Regions from separate parts of the Homo sapiens genome. Here region 1 is linked to region 2. The links come from fine-mapping of genetic effects on gene expression. A gene starts in region 2. The other region holds a variant in brackets. All regions are shown on one strand. Distances are between the middles of the regions. Region 1 has its middle 14 kb from the start of ZNF252P-AS1. Region 2 holds the start of C8orf33 (chromosome 8 open reading frame 33).

Evidence for each region. PIP is the estimated chance that this variant, and not a neighbour inherited with it, causes the effect. A credible set is the group of variants that fine-mapping cannot tell apart.
Region 1: its variant is the best candidate, but not a certain one, in a credible set for the expression of C8orf33 in whole blood (TOPMed, PIP 0.69).

Annotation. Positions count from the first base shown.
Region 1 is chr8:144,986,792-144,991,043 of GRCh38, forward strand. It overlaps the pseudogene ZNF252P. Among named protein-coding and RNA genes, the nearest start is that of ZNF252P-AS1, 14 kb to the right of the region's middle. The variant C/T (reference allele first, on the strand shown) is at 2,287.
Region 2 is chr8:145,050,006-145,054,257 of GRCh38, forward strand. It overlaps C8orf33 (chromosome 8 open reading frame 33), which reads left to right and starts at 2,462. Exons shown (of 5, transcript NM_023080.3): 1 at 2,462-2,492; 2 at 2,581-2,892; 3 at 3,057-3,141; 4 at 3,292-3,438; 5 at 4,013-4,252. The coding sequence starts at 2,487. The coding sequence ends at 4,152. RefSeq lists enhancers at 1,888-2,017, 2,058-2,107, 3,036-3,836 and a silencer at 2,318-2,387.

The DNA.
Region 1 (4,252 bases), 63 kb before region 2:
CTTTTTCTATTGTTTGGAATAGTTTCAGAAGGAATGGTACCAACTCCTTTTTATACCTCTGGTAGAATTTGGCTGTAAATCCATCTGGCCCTGGGCTTTTTTTTGGTTGGTAGGCTATGAATTACTGCCTCAATTTCAGAACTTGTTATTGGTCTATTCAGGGGTTTGACATCTTCCTGGTTTAGTCTTCTAGAAGACTAAACTAAATTTATCCATTTCTTCTAGATTTTCTAATTTGAGTAGAGGTGTTTATAGTATTCTCCAATCATAGTTTGTATTTCTGGGGGATCAGTGGTAATATCCCCTTTATCATTATTTATTGTGTCTATTTGATGCTTCTCTCTTTTCTTGATTAGTCTAGCTAGCGGTCTATCTATTTTGTTAATTTTTTCAAAAAACCACCTCCTGGATTCATTGATTTTTGAAGGGTTTTTCCTTTCTGTATCTCCTTCGGTTTTTCTCTGATCTTAGTTATTTCTTGTCTTCTGCTAGCTTTTGAATTTGTTTGCCCTTGCTTCTCTAGTTAATTGTGATGTTAGGGTGCCGATTTCAGATCTTTCCAGCTTTCTGATGTGGGCATTTAGTGCTATAAATTTCCCTCTTAACACAGATTTAGCTGTGTCCCAGAAAGTCTGGTACATTGTCTCTTCATTCTCATTGGCTTCAACGAACTTATTTCATTCTTAATTTCATTATTTACCCAAGAGTCATTCAGGAGTAGGCTGTTCAATTTCCATGTAGTTGTGTGGTTTTGAGTGAGTTTCTTAATCCTGAGTTCTAATTTGATTGCACTGTGGTCTGAGAGACCGTTATGAATTCTGTTCTTTTGCATTTGCAGAGGAGTGTCTTACTTCCAATTATGTGGTTGATTTTAGAATAAGTGCCATGTGGCACTGACAAGAATGAGAAGAATTCAAGTCCTGAATATCTTTAATTTTAAAGGATGCTGGCTGGGTGTGGTGGATCACACCTGTAATCCTAGCACTTTGGGAGGCCAAGGTGGGCAGATCATGAGGTCAGGAGATCAACACCATCCTGGCTAACACGGTGAAACCCCTTCTCTACTAAAAATACAAATAAATTAGCTGGGCATGGTGGCATGCACCTGTAGTCCCAGCTTCTCAGGAGGCTGAGGCAGGAGAATGGCATGAACCCAGAAGGCAGAGCTTGCAGTGAGCCGAGATTGCACCACTGCACTCCAGCCAGGTTGACAGAGTGAGACTCTGTCTCAAAAAAATAATAATAAATTAAAAAAATAAATAAATAAAGGATGCTAATTTTCTGTCTTGTTAATCTAATATTGACTGTGGGGTGTTAAAGTCTCACACTATTATTGTGTGGAAGTCTAAATCTCTTTGTAGGTCTCTAAGAACTTGCTTTATGAATCTGGGTGCTCTTGTATTGGGTGCATATATATTTAGGATAGTTAGCTCCTCTTGTTGCATTGATCCTTTTACTATTATGTAATGCCCTTCTTTGTCTTTTTTGATCTTCATTGGCTTAAAGTCTGTTTTATCAGAATAGTACTGCAACCCCTGCTTTTTTTGTTTTTGTTTTTGTTTTTGCTTTCCATTTGCTTGGTAAATATTCCTCCATTCCTTTATTTTGAGCCTATGTGTGTCTTTGCATGTGAGATGGATCTCCTGAATACAGCACATGGATGGGTCTTGACTCTTTATCCAATTGGCCAGTCTGCATCTTTTAATTGGGGCATTTAGCCCATTTATGTTTAAGATTAATATTTTTATGTGTGAATTTGATCCCGGCATCATGATGCTAGCTGGTTATTTTGCACATTAGTTGATGCAGTTTCTTCACAGTGTCATTGGTCTCTATATTTTGGTGTGTTTTTGCAGCGGCTGGTACCAGTTTTTCCTTTCCATATTTAGTGCTTCCTTCAGGAGCTCTTGTAAGGCAGGCCTGCTGGTGACAAAATCCCTCATCATTTGCTTGTCTGGAAAGGGTTTTATTTCTCTTTTGCTTGTGAAACTTAGTTTGGCTGGATATGAAATTTTGGGTTGAAAATTCTTCTTTTTTTTTTTTTTTTTTTTTTGAGATGGAATTTTGCTCTTATTGCCCAGCCTGGAGTGCAATGGTGCAATCTCAGCTCACTGCAACCTGTGCCTCCCAGGCATGTGCCACCATGTGGCTAATTTTTGTATTTTTGTATTTTTAAGTAGAGACAGGGTTTCTCCATGCTGGTCAGGCTGGTCTCGAACTCCTGACCTCAGGTAATCCGCTCACCTCAGCCTCCCAAAGTGCTGGGATTACAGGTGTGAGCCACTG[C/T]GCCCAGCCCAGTTCTTTTAAGAATGTTGAATATTGGCCCCCATTCTCGTCTGGCTTATAGGGTTTCTGCAGAGAGATCACCTGTTAGTCTAATGGGTTTACCTTTGTAGGTGACCTGATCTTTCTCTCTGGCTGCCCTTAGCATTTTTTCCTTCATTTCAATATTGGAGAGTCTGATGATTATGTATCTTGGGTTTGATCTTCTTGTGGAGTATCTTAGTGGTGTTCTGTGTATTTCCTGAATTTGAATGTTGGCATATCTTGCTAGGTTGGGGAAGCTCTCCTGGATAATATCCTGAAGTGTGTTTTCCAACTTGGTTCCATTTTCCCCATTGCTTTCAGATACACCAATCAATCGTAGGTTTGGTCTTTTCACATAGACCCATATTTCTTGGAGGCTTTGTTTGTTCCTTTTAATTCTTTTCTCTGTAATCTTGTTTTCATGCCTTATTTCAGCAAGGTGATCTTCAATCTCTACTATCCTTCTTCCACTTGATCAGTTCGGCTATTGATACTTGTATATGCTTCAGGAAGTTCTTGTGCTGTGCTTTTCAGCTCCATCAGGTCATTTATGTTCCTCTCTAAACTGGTTATTCTAGTTAGCAGTTCCTGTAACCTTTTACCAAGTTTCTTAGCTTCCTTGCATTGGGTTACAACATGGTTTTTTTTTTAGCTCAGAGGAGTTTGTTATTACCCACCTTCTGAAGCCTACTTCTGTCAATTCATCAGTCTCATTCTCCATCCAGTTTGGTGCCCTTGCTGGAGAAGAGTTGTGATCATTTGGAAGAGAAGAGACATTCCGGTTTTTGGAATTTTCAGTGTTTTTGCACTGTTTTTTCCTCATCTTCGTGGATTTATTTACCTTTGATCTTTGAGGCTGATGACCTTTGGATGGAGTTTGTGTGTGTGTGTGGGGTCTTTTATGTTGATGTTGTTATTGTTGCTTTGTGTTTGTTAGTTTTTCTTCTAACAGTCAGACGCCTCTTCTGCCAGTCTGCTGCCGTTTGATGGAGGTCCACTCCAGACCCTGTTGACTTGGTTATCACCAGTGGAGGCTGCAGAACAGCAAAGATTGCCACCTGCTCCTTCCTCTAGAAGCTTTATCCCAGAGTGGCACTGACCTGATGCCATCTGGAGCTCTCCTGTGTGAGGTGTCTCTTGAGCCGTTAAGAGGTGTCTCCCAGTCAGGAGGCATGGGGTTCAGGGACCCACCTGGGGAGGCAGTCTGTCCCTCAGCAGAACTGGTGTGCTGTGCTAGGAGAATCCCCTTTGTCAGGATCAGCTCCTCTCTTCACAGCCAGGCAGGAAAGATTAAGTCTGCTGAAGCTGCGCCCACAGCTGCCCCTCCCTCCAGGGGCTCTGTCCCAGGGAGGTGAGAGTTTTATCTGTAAGCTCCTGACTGGGGCTGCTGCATTTCCTTTAGAGATGCCCTGCCCAGTGAGGAGAAATCGAGAGAAGCAGTTTGGCCATAGCTGCTTTGCCGCACTGTGGTGTTCCGCCCAGTCCAAACCTCCTGGTCTCCTTAGCACCGTCAGGGGAAAACCGCCTACTAAAGCCTCAGTAATGTCAGAAGATGCTCCTTCCCCCTCCAAGCTCGAACATCCCAGGTTGACTCCAGACTACTGTGCTGGCAGTGAGAATTTCAAGCCAGTGGTTCTTAGCTTGCTGGGATCCATGGGAGTGGGACTCGCTGATTGAGACCACTTGGCTCCCTGGCTTCAGCCCCCTTTCCAGGGGAGTGAATAGTTCTGTCTCACTGGGATTCCAGGTGCCACCAGGGTATGAAAAAAACTCCTGCACCTAGCTCGATGCCTGCCTAAACAGCCGCCCAGTTTTGTGCTTGAAACCCAGGACCCTGGTGGTGTAGGCTCATGAGGGAATCTCCTGATCTGCAGATTGTAAAAACCATGGGAAAAGTGTAGTACCTAGGCTGGGTAGCACAGTCCCTCATGGCTTCCCTTAGCTG
Region 2 (4,252 bases):
TGAGACCCCATCTCTACAAAAAATTACAAAATTAGCTGGTATGATGGTGCATGCCTGTGGTCCCAGCTACTTGGGAGGCTGAGGCAGGAGGGAGGATCAGTTGAGCCCAGGACAACCTAGGTGACAGAGTGAGACATGGACTCTAAGAAAAACAAAAGTTGTATATTTGAAAACACTGACTGTAAATAGAATTAAGTCTAATATGGCAGATTTAAAAACAAAGATAGAAATGAAGTCAAGACAAAAATAGCATATGAGTCAGGAAGGTAATGGATAAAATCAGAGCATTGAAAGTGAGGCAGGATAGGTAGTCAAGGAAGTAACCATGTCCTCGGGATGCAGCAACTGTTGTGACTGTGCAATCAGCACAATAAGCCTCTGCCTTCACATTGTGGTTAAGCTCTTTCAAGCAAAACTATCTTCAGTAGAGAATTTCCCCTGCAAAGAGCATGTACATTTTGATTTTACCTGTCCTCAGACTGACCTTTCGCTCATTATAATAGTAAAAAACAGAGCCCTGGTTGGAGGTTTAAGATGCTAATAAGACATGTGACATGTACGAACAATCATATACCAGCATGTAGAACAAGCATTGTATGACAAGAAGCATTGTATGAACAAGCATGTAAGAACATACAGCTACCGCACATGTGCACTCAGAGGACCATCCAGAACATACTCACTAGTAGCACCTCTTCCCAATTCCTTATGAATAATCATGTAAGACCCCCATAAAGGGAGTCTCCCTCATGCGTCTTTGCTGCCCCAACCTTATGAGCAGCTGGCCCTCAATCCTCTCTCTCTCTCTCAGGGTGTACTGTCTATTGTTCACTTAACTTTCCAAATATTCTTTCTCCTTTGTAATAAATTACTGTATGCCGCATCTCCTTTACTGCGTGTCCCGTTTAAATTCTGCGTGTTTTTTTTTTTTTTTTTTTTTTAGATGGAGTCTCGCTCTGTCACCCAGGCTGTAGTGCAGCGGTGCGATCTTGGCTCACTGCAAGCTCCACCTCCCGGGTTCATGCCATTCTCCTGCCTCAGCCTCCCGAGTAGCTGGGACTACAAGTGCCCGCCACTATGCCCGGCTAATTTTTTGGTATTTTTTAGTAGAGACGGGGTTTCACTATGTTAGCCAGGATGGTCTCAAACTCCTAACCTCGTGATCCGCCCGCATCGGCCTCCCAAAGTGTTGGGATTACAGGCGTGAGTCACCGCGCCCGGCCAATCCGCCGAATTTTGGGAGTAATGTATCACACTGCAGTAAATAACTATCAGTGATGACCAAACTGTAACCCTTCGAGACCTTGCAGACCAGGCAGCTAACACTTCCCACCCCACCGTCTCAGGAAACACCGCTTTCCACTCCTGTGTCCCCGAAAGGAATCATCAGACATCTCGGACTCTTACCTTCTCAAGCAACACAACCCACCCTCCTGGCATAGCCCGTTGCCCCCCTGAAACCCTACTCAGCCTCACCTCAACCCCTACGCAATTCCTCTCGGTTGTCATGCCTCCATCGGCGGGGGTCGAGTGTTGTGTGTGACCCCAGGTCTCTAGCAAGGTATAGTGGGAGGGAAGCATCCAGGGGAAGAGAGGTGGTGGGATGGGGCTCTCCCTCTCCCCCATACCGCCACCCTCCCTCACGTCCATATCCTGTCCAAGGCTCTTCCCGCGTCTGCTTCTGAAACCCCTCCACGTCCCTCCACCCCATGTGCCCCACTCGTTACACAAGAGCAGAGAGATCTGCAGAACATACGTCTACGATTATGCCACTCTTCAGATTTACATCTTGCAGCGACTTCCCACTGCGTTAGAACGGAAGTAAGCCCATGACGGGGGCCCTCCCAACTCTCAGACCTCACCCGAGCCTCCACGTCCCGAGACGCCGGCCTCTCAAACGACCGCGCCCTGACCCTCGCTCTTCCCCATTTCCCAGGGTCTTTGCCGACCACCCTCTTGCGCCGTAGCTGCTCACGTGCTGTTTACTTGCTTTTCCCTCCCCACCAAAAGGTGAGCCTTGAGAAGACACACCCTCGTGGAGAGCTTTGAACTTTTATCCGGAAAGGTGCCGGGCACGTAGTCAGCGCCCGCGATCACTCGCTCACAAGGGTTCTTCCGAGACCCCTCTTCAGCCTCTTCCCCGAACCCCCAGGCCCCGCCCCAGCCCCATCTCAGCTTCGTCCCAGGCGCGTCCCAGCTTCGCCCCGTCCCAGCTTCATCCCACCCCAGCCGCGCCCCGCCCCGCCCGCTCCCCGCCCCGCCCGCGCCCCGCCCGCGCCCCGCCCCGCCCGCGCCCCGCCCGCGCCCCGCCCGCGCCCCGCCCGCGCCCCGCCCGCGCCCCGCCCGCGCCCCGCCCGCGCCCCGCCCGCGCCCCGCCCGCGCCCCGCCCGCGCCCCGCGGAACCTAGAGTCGCAGGCGCGTTCTTGAAGGACGGAATTCGGCGTCGGACTCTGCGCCCCGCGTAGTTCCGGTGGCGACTGCGGCGCATGGCGGTGAGCGGTGTGGAGAAGACGCGCGGGTGGCTGGGCCTTGCATTGTTGGCGGCTCTCGGTGACCCTCGTGCTACCCCCCTTTCTCCAGGCCCTGGGACATCTTGCTGGGGAGGCAGCGGCGGCCCCAGGCCCGGGTACTCCCTGCGCGTCCCGCGGAGCCCGGCTTCCCGGCCCAGTTTCCAGCGCCCGGAATCCTTCCACTGTCTGTCTCTGCCCAGAGCAACCTACGTGCAGTAACGCTGACTCCAGAGCGCACCCGTTGGGCGATGAAGGCGGCACAGCGTCGAAAAAACAAAAGAATAAGAAGAAAACGCGGAACAGGGCCTCTGTGGCAAATGGAGGCGAGAAGGCCTCAGAGAAACTCGCCCCAGAAGAAGTTCCCCTAAGCGCTGAGGCCCAGGCAAGGGCGGGCTTCGGTCGGGAAGGGTGGAATCCACGGGTGCGAATCCACGGGCACGTGTGATCTGGGGTCCGCGGAGTTAAGGCGGGGAGGGGCATGGGATGGGGCCGGCGGCTATGGTTTTCCAGTGCCCTCTCACAGCCACTTCCCCAAATCCATCACAGGCACAACAGTTGGCCCAGGAATTGGCTTGGTGTGTGGAGCAACTGGAGCTGGGCCTCAAGAGGCAGAAACCCACCCCGAAACAGAGTAAGGGACCCTTCTGTAGAGCTGGGGGATGTGAACAGTGGCACTGCCTGGCCTGCAGGTGCTGGCAGAGTATGGAGTTGTTGGCTTTGCGGCGGGGTGGTAGGAGGTCAGTAATAGAGGTGTTCACTAGTCCTTTATTTTTATTCGCAGAAGAGCAGGCTATTGGAGCAATCCGAACCCTGCGCAGCAAAAGAACGCCCTTGCCCCGGAAGAGGCAGCTGATGCACTCCTTGTTTGGAGACTATAGGGCTCAGATGGAAGCCGAATGGCGTGAGGCCCTGCGGGCTCTCAGAGCTGGTGAGGAGCTAGCCACTGGTTGATTCAGGAAGGCCTAACTTAAGGAGGAAGTGTCTAGGGGGTGAAAGGAAGAAGGCCCAGAGCAACAAGCCTGGTGGGGGAAGGAGATGGGCTCAGGGAAGCCTGAGGGAGCAGGGAAACAGAAAGCGTGGACCTCTCTTTCCTCTTCCTAGGACTGAACCTGGGAAGCAGCGGGGAGGCCCTGGGAGGAGTGGGAAAGAGCATGGTCCTATGTTGGTCCTGCTCCTGGGTTGGGGAAAGCTGCCTCATGTCTTTGTGTCTTGGCTTTCTCTACTAGCAATGAAGCCATATCCCATAACAGTTTGAGTGCAATTCCTGGGGCCAGATCAGCTAGGTTCAAATCCTGGATCTACCACATAGTAGTACTAACACCTTTTGCAAACTACTGAACCTCTCTAAGTGGGGGATGATAGTAATATCAACCTTACAAATTTGAGGAATTAATCAGTTAATTTATGCAAGGTGGTTAGAATTGTATGGGCAAACATAACTGTACAGGTAATGTTAATTGTTATTATTCAGTTCTGACATACGCTGCTTCTCTCCCCGACAGCTGCTTATTCAGCCCAGGTGCAACCTGTAGATGGAGCCACCAGAAAGAAGAGCCAAAGGGTCTGCAGGCCTCGCTCTATATGGAGAGCCAAAGCCACTCTGGACATGCCTGATGAAGAGTTTAGGTTCAATTTCTTTTAGCGTCTCCCCGAACCTGAAACAATCCCCCTCCCTTGGGGTGGTGTAGGGGTTTGTTTTGAGTGCAGAGCCTTTCCAGGACTTCTGTTGTCAGAGAACCCTG